Linked DNA regions of Homo sapiens: region 2 is linked to region 1. The links come from fine-mapping of genetic effects on gene expression. Tissue or cell type: whole blood. Region 1 holds a variant in brackets; the other region holds the start of a gene. All regions are shown on one strand. Distances are from middle to middle.

The links. PIP is the estimated chance that this variant, and not a neighbour inherited with it, causes the effect.
Region 2: TMTC2 starts here. The variant in region 1 is fine-mapped to the expression of TMTC2 in whole blood (TOPMed, PIP above 0.99).

The regions. Positions count from the first base shown.
Region 1 is chr12:82,943,226-82,954,247 of GRCh38, reverse strand. All of the region lies in intron 4 of TMTC2 (transmembrane O-mannosyltransferase targeting cadherins 2), which reads right to left. Among named protein-coding and RNA genes, the nearest start is that of TMTC2, 260 kb to the right of the region's middle. The variant T/G (reference allele first, on the strand shown) is at 5,872.
Region 2 is chr12:82,683,529-82,693,039 of GRCh38, reverse strand. It overlaps TMTC2 (transmembrane O-mannosyltransferase targeting cadherins 2), which reads right to left and starts at 6,134. Exons shown (of 12, transcript NM_152588.3): 1 at 5,371-6,134. The coding sequence starts at 5,453. RefSeq lists silencers at 5,114-5,173, 5,534-5,583, 6,154-6,253, 7,104-7,183 and enhancers at 6,294-6,503, 6,524-6,673.

The DNA.
Region 1 (11,022 bases):
GAGCATTCCAGACAGATCAAGCCATGTGTACGAAAACTCAAGAGTTACAGAGGATAGCATTTTTCACCTAACAATAGCAATAATAACAGGCTTCATGAAAATAAAATGACAAAATCTATGTAGGAAGCATCTGGGAAACTAAAAAACTAAGACAAATGAAAATTAGGACTATATTACCAAGAATGAGTTTCAGTAATAAATAGTCTGGCTATTCCCTGGACAAAAAAAATAATAATCAAAATAAGTCAGATAACAATGTTTATAGGCAATGATTCACAAAATATTTTTAATACCCAGTTATTTAAGAAGTATGTTCATTTTAAACTAAAAGATGTTTCTGAATTTCATTTCGTTTGATTGTCCTTTAACACACATAAGGACTATGAAACTAAGGGTTTTTTTTTTTTCTCAGAGATAAAACATAAATTTTAGATACTCACATTTTTTCCTAAGGTTTTTTATGCATTTGAAATTTGCAAACTGAAATGAACCAACATTGGTTGCAGTCATATTTGAACTTTGCATTAATCCAAATTTCCTAATCAAATTTGCTTATTTAGCTAATGGCTTTAGTAATGAGATTTTACATAACTTAATTGTTAAATGTGATTACACAGACACATTTGCTCACTTTTTTCCCAAGAATTATGCTTAGTTTTAAGCAACATTTATAATATGACACTTGGAAAAATAAATCTTTAATCTCTATCATTCAACAGGACTGATAATTTAATAGCACGGTACACTCATGAAACACAAATGCTCCCAAATCTTGTTTGATAAAATAGATATGAGTCAAAATTCTCAAGTGACTACACTGGCAATAAAAGGAATTAAATTCAAAATCCTTTTTAAATTCACTTACTGTAAATAAGTCGCTACTACTTGAATTAATTACAGTAATTCCAAAATTTAGAGAGACACAAGAGCTTAGGAATTAAGTAACTAATATGCACTAGCCACTGTGTTGGAACTGAAAACATAAAAAGAACCACGATCAAACATGCAGCCAGGTTTGGTCATGTCACGAGCAGCACAAGAATCCTGCATTGCTTTAGGAAATCACCTGAAAGGAGCGCACTTCCTCCCTTACCCCACCTCTTTGCTGCTAGCTGTAAGGCAGAAGTCCTGTGTTGAGGGAGGTAGTGGTCAAACCAAAACTAACACACAAGTCCTGGAAACTAAGCCCTTTATAAAACTGTCCAACCAGCAAGGACTGCACATCTCTGGACTCCCTTTTTAAAAGACAGATTTAAAAAATGTGTAACTGGTTTAAGCTACTGTTATTTTGGGTTTCTTATCACTTGACAACCAACCTCTTCCCAACTGACAAAATGCCATATGCATTATTCGTGTTTTTAAAAATGTATAATGCTGCCGGGCGTGGTGGCTCATGGCTGTAATCCCAGCACTTTGGGAGGCCGAGGTGGGTGGATCACCTGAGGTCAGGAGTTCGAGACCAGCCTGGCCAACATGGTGAAACCTCGTCTCTACTAAAAACAAACAAACAAACAAAAAAACACCACACACAAAAATTAGCAGGGCATGGTGGCATGCGCTTGTAGTTCCAGCTACTAGGGAGGCTGAGGCAGGAGAATCATTTGAACCCAGGAGTCAGAGGCTGCAGTGAGCCAAGATTGCACCACTGGACTTGAGTCTGGGCAACAGAGCAAGACTCCATCTCAAAAAGACAAACCATATATACATATGTGTGTGTGTGTGTGTGTCTGTGTGTGTATGTATATATAAAGTTATAAAATATGTAACATCAAATATAGCGCTCATAGAGAAATTTTAATAAAAACTTCATTTAATTACATTCAAATAAATACAAAGTATGAGTTGTCTGGTTTTGAGTGATAACCAGATTAGACAACTGCCAAGAATAAAACTTGGAATTAAAATATTTAATTAAAATTAAATAATTTAAGAATGTAATAGGTGTATGAAATTGGAACTCTTAAATTAAGTTCCTAGACATCAGAGTGGTCACAGATATCAGTTTGTCCAAAAGAACAATGACATTAGTAGTATTTTTTTAAGGCATATGAATCCTTTTCATATCCAAATACTAGAAAGAGGTGAACTCAGAAATTTTTAAGTAGAATAGAAACAGGTAGGATTTTCATCTCAGAAAAAAAAGTTCAGTGAGATATAAGTTATTGAATCTGAGCTCCGCGGGAGATACCAGAGACAAAGCTATAGTTTCTGGTCTCATGAAGCACTTCTGTGACTTTTAGGTTATCTTAGGATAGCAGACTTTGTATTCGAGGACCAAGCAAAAGAATTCTCATTACTCATATTTTTTTTTCTCAAATCATATACTCTATTTCTCTCCCTTTCTCTTTTCCTTAATTAAACTATGTTAAATACTGGTTAAAAATGACATTTTAACTAAGAGTGTTTTGGATAGAAAAGCACTAATAGAGGATGCAAATGTAAATGACCGACTTTCTTTAAAACACGTACTTTCGAGTTATTAGAAAAATGCTTAACACACTTGCTGTGAAAGGCATAATTGAATACATATTTTAAAATACTGCTACGTTATTCTATGTGATTTTTGCATATCATATGTACTGTGAGCAAAATTAAAAGATGTACCCTTCTTTAAAAGGTTAAATTCCAGCTGGGCGCAGTGGCTCACACCTGTAATCTTAGCACTTTGGGAGGCCGAGGCGGGAGGATTGCCTGAGCTCAGGAGTTCGAGACTAGCCTAGGCAATCTGGTGAAACCCTATCTCTACTAAAACACAAAAACAAAAAAAGAAAACAAAACAACAACAACAAAATAGCTGGGCGTGGCGGCATGTGCCTGTAGTCCCAGCTATTCAGGAGGCTGAGGCAGGAGAACTGCTTGAACCCGGGAAGTGGAGATTGCAGTGAGCCGAGATTGTGCCACTGCACTCCAGCCTAGCGACAGAGCGAGACTCCATTTCAAAAAAAAAAGTTAAATTCCACTGGGAAGGGTATTGAACTAGTTGTTTCCCTGCTCTATACTTTCATTGAACTAAGAAAAATGGAAAAAAGGAGATGGACAGAAAAACCACCACCATGCCACACATAAACTAGGTAAATAAGGGCACATGATTCTATTACATAGGTCTCCAAAGCTGAAATCTGTTTCAGAGTGTGTCACTTGTGTCACAAAACTGCAAAGTAGGTGTCAGAAAATACAGTTAAGCCCTCTCTCTGGTATCCTTCTTTTGACACAGACCTAATTATTTGTTCTAAATTGAATTTTGTTTAGACTTGGACAACTAAATAAAGTATAATAATGCCACTGTCTTTCATAAAGTTCTTTTTTTAAATTCTAACCTGTTAAATATGAAACAGTAGGCATTCAATCTAAATGACTTTTTAATTATTTCAGATGGATTGCCAAAAACGTTATTCTTTAACATTATTAGAGAAATAACAAGTTGCAGCTTTTGAAAATAATTTTTATATGAGTTTTTCCTTAAGAGTCTAAAGAAAGAGAAACATATCCTCACTACAGTATCATTTATTTAAAAGTTTGTGAAGTCTTGATTAAATGGAGTATTCATTACAAAGAGGCTTCTCCTGAGATTGAACATGGACTATGACATCTAAATAAGCCTTTATGTTCCATATTAGTCCATTACTACCTTTGTGACAGGTGGTGAATAAGACGCTTTACAACTATTATGTATTTCTCACAATGAACCCATAAAGGTATCAACCTTATCTTAAAATGAAGGGTTCAAAGATCAGAATGGTTAAGCAACTTAAGTCTATGCAGCTAGTTGTTATTGTTGGATCTAGGATTCGGAGAACTACATTGTATATTCATATATGCATAATTTACTTTGTACCTACCTTTTGAATATATAACTAAGACTACATTTTCTTCCACATGTCAAAATAATAGGTGTGAATATATTTTCCTAGTTTAAAAACAGTACTCAACAGGAAGTAATAAAGATTAATACTTGGGGTTTAAGTTTTTCATATTATTTCTTTCCACCCTTGCAATTAGCAATAGCAATTATTATTCTTTTTACTTTAGAGTCTAAAAATGAAGGGGGAGAATTTAAATAATTTGTCCATGATAATGTAGCTGTCAAGACTCAAGATGAGATTCAAATTCAGAGGTATCAGGCTTCAAATCACCAACACTGGGAATAGGTGACTGCTTTTAGCTTAGTATTAATACCCGCCCTTTCTCTCTGGTTCATATACACACTGCTTCTTAATTATCTCAGTCAACAAATTTCTCTTCTTTTCTTATTTATACATGCACTTCCCAACATGTAAGCATCTTGAATTTGCATCGTGAGATAAACTGCAGCCTCCCAATGACAGTCAACCTCTATTTTACCAAGAAATGCATCACAACCAATACACTTATAAAGGGGTTTCCTTGAGTTACTCTTGTGCTTTGGACTCACTCCTCTTCATGGACGTGGTTGCCAGTGAGATAAGACATAGCCCCAAAATGGCATAGCCAGGGAACACTAAGAAATAGAATAAAATTACCAGCTAACAAACTCTTCAGATTTTATTATCATATAATTATATCAAATTTCTAGACATTATATTAACGTCTCTTATATTATATAATGCAACTCAACCCAATGTTGCAGATGAAGAATAAGGATTAAATAATTTGCCTAAGGTCAGACACAGGACCAATAAATGAATGATTTGAAGCCAAGTCTGTTTAAAGCCAAAGACATGCTCTGAAGTATTTCACTGAGCTGCCTCCAAAGTACAAGGTTGCCAGATAATTTAATTTAAAAAATTTTAAAAAAGCAACTTTTCCCCTTTCCCCATTACCCTTCCCATGAAAACAAATATGACTCTGGTAAGTCCATATATATCTTCTGGAATCACAGTCAAATCTCTTTCAAGTATTTCCTTCATCCTCTGGGAGAATTTTTATTTAAAACAAACAAAATTAAGAAATGAAAAGCATCTAACACAAGTTAAAGGCACTAACCACAAATGATTTAACTTTAAACCTATATACTGATTTACTATCTATTCTTTGCTATTTGCAGGTGCTATCCAACATGGACGTCTAATCTTTATGTAATTTCTTGGAGAAGAAACACCTATCAGTTGGAGAGTGTGTAACCACTGCAGAGGAACTCCTACGCTGGAATACAAGCATAGGCCAAAACCTTTCTTGCTCAGTAAAACTCAATGTAGTTAGACTGACTTGTTTATTCATTCAAAACATATTTTGAAAGTACCATTATGGAGGTTTAATGATTAGAAAAGATAAATTATTTAAAAAGCAGCGCCAATGCTGAGTTGATATGCTTTGAATGCTTTGGTATAGTATGATACACTATGGAAGTCCACAGCCAGAAAACCTAACTTAAACAAGTTTGTTCAGGCAGAGGGAAGAAAAAAGGAAAAAAAAAAATAGCTTTTGAGAATTCTACAGAAATCAACACACTCAAAAAAATTACAAAAAGAAAAAAAAGCTTCACGGCAAGATTCCATCACAGATATGGTTATAATTTGGGTTAGAGATGACCCCATGGGCACACAGAGATTTAGTGCAATGCACTCACTTTAAACATAAATGTTCAACAAAGTGGGTGTTTTCTTTGTCCCTTAACAGCAGTGCACTAATGAAAGTCTGCTGTTAAAGCAATAAATTATGAAAGGGGAAAAGGTATCATGTATCTTATGGACCAGCGGGAATAGGTGTTAGGTCATACAAGCAGTTTCTAAGTTAAAAATAAGGAAGATGAGTTCCAAAAATGAAAGTCTGAAGCTATATATATATTTTTTTGCTTGGAATAGATTTTTCAACTTAGCAACAATTCACTTGAAGGTTTATCCTGAATACTTCAGAATTAGAAGAAAAACACTATTCATAACAATCTTTTTTTTT[T/G]TTGTTTAAATTAAGGTAGGGTTTCCCTCTGTTGTCCAGGCTGGAGTGCAGTGGTATAAGCATGGCTCACTGCAGCCTGAGTCTCTTGGGCTTAAGGAATTCTCCCACATCAGCCTCCTAAGTAGCTGGGACTATCGGCATTTGCCACCAGGCCTGGCTATTTTTGCTTTTTAAATAGAAACAAGGTCTCACTATATTGCCCAGGCTGGTCTTGAACTTCTGGGCTCAAGTGACCCTCGTGCCTTGGCCTCCCAAAGTGCTGGATTACAGATGTGAGCCACTGAGCTTGGCCTGTAACAATCTTTCTAAAGTTGCATTTGTTGATTTAATTTTGGTGCAGAAAAGGAATGGCCCCCTTCACTGAACTCAGTGGTCATAGAGAATGAGGAGCAATTCATTGCCATAGGCATCATTTAGCGGCTTCAGTCATGGAAGCAGGAGCCAAATTGGTAGACAAGGCTGAAGAATGGAGAAAAAGGGCTGAGAGACGTTGACAGAATGATGGAGGTCTGGGGATCAAGATGCCAAATTAAGAGAAAACTGGCAAATACACTCAGCAGCACTTGCTTCTATTCTCTTTTCTATTCATTCTACCCTTATATTTAATAAGGCTACTGGTCTTATTTCCCTTGACTTTTCTTTAAAACAAAACAAAACAACAACAAAAAAACAGGGCGTAAGAAATGGCCAACTTGCTTATTTTTCCAAGCCATCGATTGTTGCTTTTGATTAAAAATTGCACTCTGAGGCTGGGCACGGTGGCTCACGCCTGTAATCCCAGCACTTTGGGAGGCCGAGGCAGGCGGATCACCAGGTCAGGAGATCGAGACCACGGTGAAACCCCGTCTCTACTAAAAATACAAAAAATTAGCCGGGCATGGTGGCGGGCGCCTGTAGTCCCAGCTACTCGGGAGGCTGAGGCAGGAGAATGGCGTGAACCCGGAAGGCGGAGCTTGCAGTGAGCCGAGATCGCGCCACTGCACTCCAGCCTGGGCGACAAGAGCGAGACTCCGTCTCAAAAAAAAAAAAAAGAAAAAAAAAGAAAAAAAAATTGCACTCTGCTCCAACACCCAGTTTCAGGAGACTGAGTACACACTTTGCAGCCCAGGTTTGCACCTAACACTAAAGTTGGTCTTTGAAGATTTAGAGATTTTTTTCTAAAGAAATTTTATTTCAAACAGGCAAATGTACAGGGGACACACTCAAACACAATACCATCTTTTAAAGGCTGTCCTTAGAATAACAGTGCAGTTAAAACCCAGTCACCCTGTAGACTTAAGACAACTTGGATTGTTCTAACCAGAAATTTCTGTTGTTAAAGAAAGTGCATGCCTGGGCCGGGTGCGGTGGCTCACGTCTGTAATCCCAGCACTTTGGGAGGCCGAGGAGGGCAGATTACGAGGTCAGGAGATCGAGACCATCTTGGCTAACACTGCGAAACCCCGTCTTTACTAAAAAATACACAAAATTAGCCCGGGGTGGTGGCGGGCGCCTGTAGTCCCAGCTACTTGGGAGGCTGAGGCAGGAGAATGGCGTGAACCCGGGAGGTGGAGCTTGCAGTGAGCCGAGATGGCGCCACTGCACTTCACCCTGGGCGACAGAGCAAGACTCTGTCTCAAAAAAAAAAAAAAGAAAAGAAAAGTGCATGCCTACTCTCTGAGTCTGATGATGACATGTGGTTTCTAGAACAAGGCTCCATCTGTCTCTCTATTGCTAGATGGCTGTTGGACATTTCCTCACACTGTCCTCCTTATTATCAGAATAGCAAGATGGCATCACTTTTACCCAAACCCTGTGCCATGAAACACCCTCAGCTTATCATCTGTAACAATAGGGTCGCTAAGTGCAAAATGAAATGAGAGGCACAATGATTAAAAGCAATGGAGATGTGAAGCAAAAAGGGCATCCTTAGGTATTCTTTAATTCTGCAGGGGTAAATGGGAGAGAAGAAGGGAGAAAGAGAGAAGGAAAGATTCTAAAGTAATCTATGTACACCCTTCACACATGAGGAATTTAAGGAAAACATATGTACCTAAATCAATGTGCATGCAACTATTATTTATTGAACACATATGCTAAGCACTATTGCAGACACTAAGAATATATATAAAAACAATGCTTTGGTGAAGCTTACATTTTAGCAATATACAAAGTAAACTAGGTTTACATTAATTTTAATATCATTATTTGTCATTATAGGTAGTAAATTATATAGTTCACTAGAAGGTAATACATGCAATGTTTTAAAGAATAAAGTATAGGGGAACAGAAGTCTGAGAGAGGCAGATGGGTTGCTAATTTAAATAGAATTGGCTAGGAGGCCTCATTCAGAGAGTAACATTGAAGCAAAGAATTGAAAGAAATGAGTGATATAATTTAGCTATAGAAATAATGTATTATTTAGTAGAAATAATATGTAAGAAAAAATAAGCAGCAGATGACACATTCATTTTTTAAATTCACTATCATCTAAATATCCAGATGTCCTTCAAACTTCAATTACACTTTAAGTAACTTTTCCATCATATAGGGGAAACCACAGTTAGGTTTTGTACAAGAAAGAAAGTAAATTAAGTGAAAGACAATATTACTATATTTCCTGGTGTGTCTAGGAAATAATTCTTAACTCACAGTAATTGGAAATCTGCAGAGGACTGATTGGAACTACACAAATAAATTTACATCTGTTCATTTTTCTTCAGGAGCAGAGAAATAAGAAACTTTTTTCATAATGCAAAACCTCCTTCTGAGAAAATTGAAATTAATTTACTTGAAATTCTGCTGCACATCAGCCTGCACTTTCCATGTTAGCGTAATTTTAGGAACAACAGAAAGCTTCTGGCCATTTAAGTAACTTTCAATCAGTTTTAAAGTTAAACCAAACAAAAGGCATTAAAACAGGATGTGATTATGAACTTCTTTATAAACCTCTTTTATGGGTTTTCTAATATATGCCCTCAAATTTACCTACAGTGTCCTGGATGAAAACGACAATAAAATTAAAGGCCTTTTAATGAGATTGCAGAAAAATGTCTTTCACCATTTTCCAACATGGAAAATAGTTTAACTCACTCTACACTCTTGAATGAATATTTCTACATAATACAATTTTGCAGCTACGTTTGTAAGAGAAAACCTTTAATACAAATGAGCATAGGAATGAGTGAATCTTTCTTTTGCCAGGCTCCAATTTCTAAAAGGATTCTGATTTCCCCCAATTCTGCTTTGGGGTAGAGTGGGGAGTGCAAGGCTTAATAGTTAGTTCAGCAGGCAATTCTAGACACCAATTTCCATTGCTATAAGAGGAATGAGTGTGAAATCAGTTGTTTGATTCAATTTGATTTGAAAGCATTTAAGAACTAAGGAGGTACTGAAGACCTCACTATGTGATAGAAACAAATACATATTAATTTACATCTCCAGCCATCAAAGACCTCCTAGTGTGAATCTCAGTTCTTTGGTCTTTGTGTCCATATATTTCATAAGATAAATTCACTCTCTGAATGATACCCTGTAGTTTTGTGATAGCAACATGCTGTTCTCTGAATACCACGTGGAGGAGAAGTGAATAACATGTTTAAGTTTCTACACCTAGGACTGATGTCACTATCTTTTTTTCCCATGGGGACACAAAAAAGTCCATAGAAATATTTAACTTCTCTATAGTACATGGTTTTGGCCATTTTCTCCCATCTTACTGTCCTAACCAACAGCTTCAATGACATCACACAACTTAGTCTTTTACTGTACTCCTTAAGCCAACTTTAGGTTTCTACTTTTTCTTTTTCTTTTCCTTTTTTTTTTTTTTTTTTGAGACTGTCACCCAGGCTGGAGTGCAGTGGTGCAATCTCGGCTCACTGCAAGCGCCATCTCCCGGGTTCACGCCTTTCTCCTGCCTGGGAGTCGCTGGGACTACTGGTGCCCGCCACCACACCCAGCTAATTTTTTGTATTTTTAGTAGAGATGGGGTTTCACCGTGTTAGCCAGGATGTTCTCGATCTCCTGACCTCGTGGTCCGCCCACCTTGGCCTCCCAAAGTGCTGGGATTACAGGTGTGAGCCACCATGCCCAGCCAGGGTTCTATTTTTTCTATCGATCTCCTTAAATATCGGTATTCCCTAGGATTCCACCCATGGTTCTTCCATTTATTCTTATGCATATTATTCACATACACATTATTTATTTTCAGTTTTAATTTACATAATTATGACACCAAAATCTATACCCTTTAGCTCAAAATGCTCTCATGAACTATGGAAACACATTCCAGTTGCCCACTGGATGTTCAATAGTCACCTCAAACTTAGCCAACACTGAAAAGTAATTCCCCCAAACCACCTTACTTACCTGTCTTTCTAGTATGACTCCTCTATTCTTTTCTTTTTCATTTCTCTTTCCTTCAGGCTGATTTACATTTCTTTGTATACCTTGTCACGATAATATAAGCATATCACTCAGAAAAGATGTCACTTTATTACATAACATTCTATTTTTACATCCAGACTTCAAGTTACTTGAGAGTAGAAACTACACTTTGTCAGCTTATTCCCATCTTTTAATATGATGTCTATCACTCTGAAGGTACTCAGTATTTGTTGAATAAATTAATGGATCCTTATTTCCAAAATGTAAATTCATATTTATAAATATACTCAAAAGACATAATCAGTCTTGACTGAACTTTAGAATTGCTCATTCTTTCTCAGAATTATGTGAAAACTAGTGATGTCTGAAATAGGTGCTATAAGAATTGAGGATTTTGAGTGGCAGGAAGATAAATTTCACCTTGAGAGCTAAACTGTAAAATCAATCACAGTGAATCAGAGAACAGGAGTGCAAAATCAACTGTGGACAAAAAAGATACCTCCAAAACTAGCAGGGATGCAGTGTAACTGACCATATTAGTGCAACAACTGAGTACAAAATGTAAAAGTGTGTAGGGAGCAGGAGGTGATGAAACTTTGAAAGCTCTGGAAAAGTAAATTTAGAGTCAAATGCCAATAGCAATTGTCTCAGCACTTTCCAGGAAAGGAGGAGCTGCAGCCAAGAGGTTTCATAGCATCAGGCTGTCTTAGATGAATGTCATTATAAATTTATTCATCCAATACTACTTGGATTGACGCTGTTACAAATTAAATGTTTTCAACACAT
Region 2 (9,511 bases), 260 kb after region 1:
TGCACTACATATACAAAGAAGCTCATATGTAGTAATATTCATAATTTGTGAATTATTGAATGTAAGTTTATTCCTCAAAAGCACATACAAATCATATCTTCAAAGAAACATTTAGCACTGTATGTAATTACACCAGCAATTATTCAAAATATTATGCCTTTTTCACCCAATGAAAAAAAGAAGGTATGCAGTCCTGCTGAAATATCCCTCCACTTTTTTAAAAAACTGAGCTCCTAAATGAGGACAGCTATTTATAGAGGAGAGGTCTTTACATTCAATAACCCACCGTTCCTTTCCTTGGAGGCTGCCACACTTGTCACTTTTGTGAAGCCATTAAAATAAGTATCCAAAGCTGATACAATACTCTGCTCCTAAGAGAGAACCAGAAAGGTTAACAGATGAAAGTTGCTGTGTTAAAAGCACTTCAGATGAGTATAATAAAGTTATAAGAAAGTAGGTTTGTCAGCCACAGATTTTTCAAAGAGCCTTAAGGGTAAACGTCATCCTTTCCTAATATTACAAAGGTTCCTGCTTTAGAGACAACGCACCTTTAGCCTACGAAAGACAGTTGTACCACCAGAGGCATTTTTTTGAAAAGTGCTTTTAGTGTGCTGAGCAGCAACAAAACTGTTAGAAAGACAAACTATGTTCCTAATGCATGCTGGAATGCAAAAGGTTGTTGCTATTTCAAAATTATAGCAGAAGAGAATTCAGTATTAACAACAGGGGCACATTAGCACTGAAGAACTAAGTGCAGATGACAAAACAAAAGCCCATAGAATCACCAATGTAAATGTAATAATCGTGCATGTATGTGTGTGTGTATGTGTGTATGAAAACAACTAAGAGACAGATGGCAATTTTCCCTGTGGCATTTGCACATGTCCATTCAATGCATGTATGTGGGTCAATTACTATGATAAACATCATGTGACAGGCTCAATGGAGGTAAAGCGGTTCATACTGACTTCACCTAATTTTAATTTATTGATGAGATATACTTATTCAAAACAGCAAAATGAACTTTTTCCAAATAGGTTTGTTTAAACAATCAAAATGTAGTTAGAAAATAAAATGCCACCTAAAATAATTTATAAACTCTAACTTGTATTCCAGTGAAAACTGGGAAGGAAACTGAAGAGTAAGACCATACTTCTGTATACAGTGGCTTCTTATAATAATCACTTGATAAGACAACCACTGATACAAAGAGAGCTTCTCCCTTACTTAATTATATAGTAATTCTTTCTAAACATGCTTTTTACTAAATACCAGGCCTGCCTTCAGTAGTTACACATGCTGGAATCTTAAGATAACAATCTCAGATTGGTCAAAGACAAGTCTATTAGAGAGAACTTTTTAAAGATAAGTTAACAGAGTGATTATTTCACGAGGGATTCCTATCATACCAGGTCAAAAAACCCAAACTAACAATAACATTAAAAGATCAAGCAGAAATAATAGTTCAATATCTTTAGAAAGAATGCAGGTTTTAAAAAAATTGTTAATATACTTAAATTCCATTCCTTCATTTTAAATAATATTAAAATCATTATAAAGAAAAAATTAACTCATGTGTTTATAAAAACTGAGATTTCCATTTATACCCAAATGAAAAGCTAACTAGGAGTGAATTATTAAGAGCTTGATGTAATTTTAATTCCATAGTAGAAACTTCTGCTGTGTAGTTGTTTCTCCAAGTTTCAAAAAATTACTGCACAGTGGAATAGCTAAGAGATCTACAGGTAACATTAATGATTCTGGTTGAGTTTAACAAATGCAAAATGGGCAATAAGAAAATAAATTTTCAGAGGAGTCGCAAATATATTTTCTACTTCCAAACCTGCAAATTGTCTTTGCAAACTAATAAATTATTTTACTCATATGAGAATTTAAAGCATGTAAAAGTTGCATTATCTTATTTACTTGTCGATGTATAAAAAGGGCATGTCACCAATTAGAAGATATGTGCTAAGTGAAATCAGACTTCTAAAGTTTAGAACAGTTATGGTTTGTTTACCTTTGTCTGCTTTGAAGTAAACTGACTCCTCTCATGGTGTTATCTCCATAAGAAACTCATAACAGTATTATTAAAAAGGATAAGAAAAAAGTGATGCCATGTCATCCTCAACAAATGCGTAAGAATGCAGAGAGTTTTGGGTCAGAGAAGTTTTACCACTGACCTAAACACCAAATTTCTCCAGAAAATAAGAGAAAATCCTTTAAGGAATCACATACAACATAACTTAAAATTTGGCAAAGACTGCATATTGTTAATTTCAATTTTCCTCTAACCACAACTTAAGATTCAATACTAGATTGAAAGCAAGGGGAGGGAGGATGAAGCTGAAACCACATACCCTTTTTCATCAGATACTGTGAATTCTTCTCCTCCACTGTTTGTTTCATCACATCAGAGGCATATTCTTAAATTTAGCACAGAAACACTTGTAAAATATTAAATTTTACCATAGAGAAATTGATTGTGCTATAAGAAAGTTTCATGTTACCATTTAATTTCAACCAAGCTACATCAAACATGGAAAGAAATTATATATAGTTTATAAAGTAAACGATCACTATATTTAAAAGAAATGATAACCTTGAGAAGTACCACAGCAATAATGATTTAGTTAAGCAAGTCAGGAATAACAGCCATCTCCCTTGAGTGCTTCTCCCTTCACTTCTGGCACTGGCCTCTCCTTACAGAACTGGATTTCACAAAAGTTCCTGGAGGGCAGCAGAATCCACAGGTCTAGTTTAAGCAATGTTTTAAACATGAATCTTTGCATCTGAAATGTAGTAGCGGAAATAAACAAATTATCATCATCCTACAGTTTACACTTGGCTCCCCAGCTTTCCTCCCCCTTCACACACCAGTGAGTTACAGTAGTTAGATAGAAAATATATCAGAAAAGCCACAATTTATAGTGTAACTTCACAATGAATCACTTGAACAGGCTGTGCATACAACAAATAAGTTCAGTGCTCCTATTTATGTGTCTCATAATTTCTAGGATACATAAAAACAAAGTTTGCTGCTCTTAAGATTTCACATTCTAAGAATATGTGATGGCATATGTAGTTCTGCTAAGAAATCAGTGTAAAATACACTTTTCAAATTGTAGCAAAGTATAATTCACAGTTACAGGCCCTCAATATTTTATCAATATATACTATCTAGACATCATATTGAGCATGCTATCAATAAAATCATATGGGCAAATAATCATACTATATTCACCTATGTAGCTACAAGATAGAAGTCACGAATTTTAACACTCCATTAGACTATTGCATCTGAAAAACTTACAACTGCCAACCATCAAAGCACAACTAATTTATCATCACACTCACACCATTCTTCCAAGTTACAAGGTCCAGTCCTAACACTTCTGATGACTCAAGAGCACAGAACAATTATACCTATAGAAAAATGCATATCCAAATTTAACCTTAATTTTTAAAGAATGGCTTCTTCTGATGTGTATTTTCTTAAGGATTAGACAGCAATGAACAAGGGCATACAATAGGAATACTTGATTCACCACCGTGTTCTATAACAAGTTGCATTATTATAATAAGTTTCTTTTTTTAAATAAACTCTATATTCTTGGTTTAAATGCTTACTATTCAAACTGCCCCCAAGAGCCAGTAACTGCCCACACTGACCCAAGGTGGTTTTAGTGAAAAGTCACCCATCAAGTTGCATTATTATAGTAAGTTTCTTTTTTTAAATAAACTCTATATTCTTGGTTTAAATGCTTACTATTCAAACCGCCCCCAACAGAGCCAGTAACTGCCCACACTGACCCAAGCTGGTTTTAGTGAAAAGTCACCCATCTTTGGAAACAAGGGCTTTTTCCACGAATATGCTAGAAATAGCAGGTGCACCATTACACAAAATTGGAGAGAACAGAAATTTACCTCACTCCTACAGACCATTTCTCAGAGCATGCTGTGTAGTTGCTAAAATCAGTATGCTGCGTAAAAGTTAAGAAAAAATGTATGTCTAACAGTGGTTCCCTATCAACTAGCCTCTGGTAGGCACTACATAAAATGCATTAAGACGGGTTTGCTGGATGTTCTGGCACCTATTATCAGGTGATTTTTTAACAGAGATGTGAAGATGCTTTTAGCAGGAGAATGGGCACACCAGAGAATACAGAATGTGGCTAATTACGACGAGAAGAAGATTCTGCCTTCACCTCCCCTCACTGTCAACCACTTTGCGTAAGTGCTCTCACTGCCTCGCCCTAACCCTGGGGATCCATTCACTTTTCATAGCTCAGAGAGGCTGCTGAAAAGCTGTCAAAGTAAATCTGTGCTCACTTTTTGGATGGTTTAATTTCAATGGAGCATGAAACACCCCAGGACGGTTAATAAGTTTAGCCAGGCGTGCTGTTATCCCTAATATATTTTAATTATGCATCTGTTTTAATTGTAATCAGATTAAGACACCGGAAGGACACAAATTGGAATTTTCCCTAATGGATATAGGGGCTTTTCATCACTTTCTGAACACTAATAACGTTTAAAAGATAGGAAGAGACACCAACACAACGGTGACATTTTCCAGAAATCGATGCAGTTTCTTTGACAACACAGTTCAGGTCTCATTAGCCACCCAAACTAACCTAAGTGCAGAAGACAACTTCAGTCTCTAGGGGCGTCTTCTTCTCCAATTAGTACAAAAGAACCACTAACATCTAATGTACAACTCCCAAACAGAAATGAGAAAGCCGAGGCTTTTATAAAGTGCTGCCCAATGGATTGGTGAAGGAGGCTAGGGCGGCGGGAGAGACCATCAGCAGCATTATTTTGGCTCAAAGTAAAAGTCTATACACGTTAAAAGGGAAAGTTAAAGCAGAGAACGATCTCCCTTTTCACAATTTTGGCAACTATCAAACGTGTGTTTTAACTTCGGGAAATAAAAGTGTCCCATCAATAAAAGGAAACGGGACAGGGAGGATCTATCAGGGATCGAGGAGAGGCTTCCTCCCAACCAGACGTAAAATCACTTAATGTGCTTTGTTGCATCAAGGAATACCTAAGACTTTAATTTAATACGTTCATTAAACAGTTTCCCAAATTGCCGGGATTTCCGCTAAGAAACTCAAGCGTCTGCCAACAGCCGAGAAGCAAGGGAGAGAACCTGCTGCAAACTAGGAGCGGAAACTCCCTCGGCCCGCCCAGCGCGCCTCACGTCCCCGGTGTTTGATTTAGGTGTTAATGTTTACGTGTCGCCTAAACCATCAGGTGCTGAACCAGTTCCTCCAAGACGCACTTTGAGCCTTAAAGAGGGAAGCTTCAGAGCCACTGCGGAGTGTGCCCCCTGCAGCCCGTCGCCCCCTCCTCTCGGCCCCTTACCTGTCATCATAGCAGAAATCCGCACTCAGGGTGTTGAGATACAAGGCGAGCCCCAGAGCGCTGCTCACCAACTCTGCAATCATCTCTCCACCGCCTTCCCTCCGGCTCGGCTCCCAGCGCGAGGGCAGCAGCGGCAACAAAAAACAGAAGCATCAATCTCCACCTTCCGCCGCCTTCTCCTCCCAGCTTCACTTTTCCCTCGCTTCCCCACCCTCCCTCCCTCGGGTCCTTCCAATCCACGACTCCTCTCCTCCTCCTCGCGCCCGTCTCCGCAGCTCCTGCGTCCTCCCCGGGTGCGGGCTCACACCACACTCCCCATGCCCGGCGCCCGCAAGCGGTGAGCGGCGTTTGGGCTCCGCGTCCCCCGGCGGAAGCGCAGGGCTGGTCTTTCGCGCGGGTCGCGATCCCCACCCTAACCCATGGCAGTTTGGGGCGTCCTAGGTGAGGAGTGGGACTCGGAGGAGGTGGAAGGGTGCGGGATGGGGGCAGAGGGACCGGACCAAGCCGGGCTCTGGGACCAGCTGGAGGAAGAGAGAGAAAGAGGCGCGGGTGGGAGGGACAAGGCGAACCGCCTCCCCTCGCCGCCTCCCGGGCGCACTGCTCCGGTGTCGCTCGGGCGGACTCCGGCCGCCAAGGCAGCTGCTGCACATTCAATGTTTATTAGCTCCCTCCCAGCCCCAGCCCCAGCCCCAGCCCCAGCTCCCTTCTCCAGTGAAGTGAGAAGCGGTGGCTGGAGACTCCAGAAGCTCCCGCGTGGGGTTCTCGACGCGGCCCCCCGCGCCTGCGTGACCAACCCTCCATCCCGGCTTGGCCCAGCCCCTTTCTCCACCCAGATCCTCCCGGAAGGCTCCTCCTACCCTGCCCCTCGGGCTGGAGGCTCCTCCCACCCTCCCCGGCCTGGAGGCTCCTCCTACCAGCCTCCCGTCCTCTTGTTTCTTTCACCTTCGATTTCACTCTGGAAAGCCCCCGGGACCCAAGGGCGACGGCTGGAAGACAGCCCAAAGGAGTAGATACAGTGCACCCTGGGAGGGGAAGCTGGGAGAAAGGAGGTCGAGGAGGAGGTGGTCGGTCGCCCCGCTGCTGCCTGGCAGCGCCTGGCACGGCTGAATCTCAGCCACAGCGCTGTGTGTGCCAAGAGCTGCCAGGCGTAAGTCCGGTCAGCTGGAGAGACTTCTGAGACCGGGAGAGGAAGAACAGGTTTGGCGACTGCTGCAGCTTCGGTTGTCACAAACTCACTGGCGATCTCTCACGCACACTGTGTGTGAGACTAAATGGGGGGGAGGAGGTAGTATTGGAGAGCTTGGAGGCAACTTAGGAAGGAGAGATTTCAGCTCTTAGCCTACGGTTGGCCACAATGTCAGTGGAAAGACGTGTAGGGAGAGAAACGTTTCCTCCTTCAGTAAGGTTAAAAAGAAAGGACCCCAAAAAGGGAAAGAAAGACACACACACACCCCGCAGCAACTGCCCGGGGACCCCTTCGTGGTTTCAGAGGGACTGTCGGGTTGACCCTGAGAACACAGGAGAGAAACCTCTAGTGCAAGCCGGTACAGCATTATACTTAAACCTAGTAAGGCAGTAAGCTAATGCCCTTTCCTTTCCGCTCGGAGGCAGGACTGGATGGAAAGCATCCAACATGGTGAAATATGGTGTAGAATGGTCTGTGTAGAACAAGCTCTGGGTACTAAAGTTGCAAGACCAAAGAGGACCCAGGGCTGCCTGACACGCCTCCTCCCGGCTTGTTGGCTTTCTGGCCAGGAGAGTAGCTCCGGTGCACCGCGATGTACACTACTGCAGCGCCCCCTGCTGCATAGTAACCACAAGGTGTGGAAGACAGGTCTGTTTTGCATGCGGGCCGACTGGTTCCAACCAAGAGCAGCACCTAACCAGCAAGCTCTCCGAAACTGTGGCAAGAAATTGAGCCCCCTGGGTGTCTAGCAGTGGCCTGGAAAGAAAATACCGTGGTCTGGGCTTCTGTAGAACAAAGCTACATATTTCCCTGATTTCACAAGGAAATCTGAGAAATCTGTATTGGATACACACAGATAAAATGATGAATATTTATTAATATTATACCTGTTATGCCATCCACAGTAGCACATTTTTTGTGCCCTGGACAAATATATGTAAACAAAAATAAAAGGAATTATGTCTTTACAGGTAGGGACTGATCTTTTACCCTTTTCCTCCATAACCTTTGCTCACTTGAAAATTTTGAAAATCATATCAGTTAGTCCATCCTGATGCTCTGTGTCTCTCCAATGCACTTACATGCTGAGATATATATAGTATATATAAAATATGTATATGGTGTCCTAGAACACTGAAGGAAGAACACATACTGTGGGATCAGATGTTTAAGTTTGAGTGCATACTCTGCTATTACTATTTGGGCGATCTTTGGCCAGTCGTTCAACCTCTTTGTGACTCTGTTTTCTAATCTATGAAACAGTGATAATAATAGTACTTATCTTATGAGTACTGTTATTATGAGTATTAAAGTAGTTAACCTATGTAAAATATCTAAAAGGGACCAGGAAAGTGCTACAGAAGTATTAGCTAGTATATCATTATTACTATGCTTTCTAGCTTCCTCGTTTCATTTTACTTGTTAACAAAAACCTGGACAGTTACCTCCAAAACACATCCTATCACATCTTTACTACTTGAGTCCACAGCCCAGCTGCCCTCATCTCCTGCATAGACAAATGCAGTAGCCCTCTAAGTGGTCCCCGTACTTCTACCCCTGCAATGCCTCCCTTCCCCAATTTTAACTTTAGGCAGAAGTTTCCTTTGAAAACCTATACATTCCCAATTTTTAAATGTTCCACAACTTCCTGTTGTATTTTTAAATGTCCAACAACTTCCTGTTTTACAGCTAATAAAACTAATTCTTACCATGGCCAGCCAAGCCTTCATTTAGCCCAGACTACCCCTCCCGCTTCATGTTGTGTTCATATGTGTACAACACAGACATCCTTCTCAGGAACTAACCACTTTCTCTTCCTCCTGCATGAGGTTCTTCTCCTCAAACCTTCTCTAGCTCCTTCTCACCATTCAGGTCTTAGCTCAAATGGCATAACCTCAGAAATAAAGTAGGCTCTCCCCCATCAATCTCTATCCAACCACCATGTATTAGTTTCTTCATAGTATGTATTAGTATCTGGAAGCACCACTGAGTGGAAGCTCCATGAGGTCAGGGATCCTGTCAGTCTTCTTTTCCACATAAAACCCAGAGCCTATAACATCTGGACACGGAGAAGAAACTTTAAAAAGATTGTTAATAAATGAACAAAATAAATGTGCTTAGGAGAAACTACGTAACAGCTGGAAAATCCAAAAATTTTCATCGCTGATTTATTGTTTGTCGTTAGTGTTAAAGATCGTGAAGTATTAACCAAGGAGAGAGGAAGGGAGCAGGTTCACAGTTTTTCAGAATACATCAAGTCTGCAGGAATACCCGTGAAGGGGAGTCACATGGACAGGTCTCTTCAGTTATTAAGAGGACTCAGATATGTAAAAATATTAGAGAGCTTTGGGTTCCACATGCTAAAAGCTTGTAAGCCTTTTCCACAGCTGTGTTCATTTTTAAGGCTCCAATAGTTTAATTTAATTTTTAATTTTTTTTTTTTTTTGAAACAGAATCTCACTCTGTCGCCCAAGCTGGAGTGCAGTGGCCCGATCTTGGCTCACTACAACCTCTGCCTCCCGGGCTCAAGCGATTCTCCTGCCTCAGCATCCCCAGTAGCTGGGATTGTAGGTGTGTGCCATCAAGCCCGACTAATTTTTGTATTTTTAATAGAGACGGGGGTTTTACCATGTTGCCCACGCTGGTCTTGAACTCCTGACCTCAAGTTATCCACTTGCCTTGGCCTCCCAAAGTGCTGGGATTATAGGCATGAGCCACTGCGCCCAGCCATGGCTCCAATAGTTTTAAATAAATTTTATACACTCCTCCATCTCCTCGTTTTCTCCTTTCCCCACCTCCCAATACCTCTGAATTGGAAGCCTAGGTGACTGGGAGATGGGCTGTAAAATGGCACATCTTGCCTTCCCTGATAAACAGAAGGCTGAAAACCTAGCTGTGTTTGAGAAATCCAGTTGCTTTTAACAAATTTTTCTATTATAATTTAATGTAGGTTTC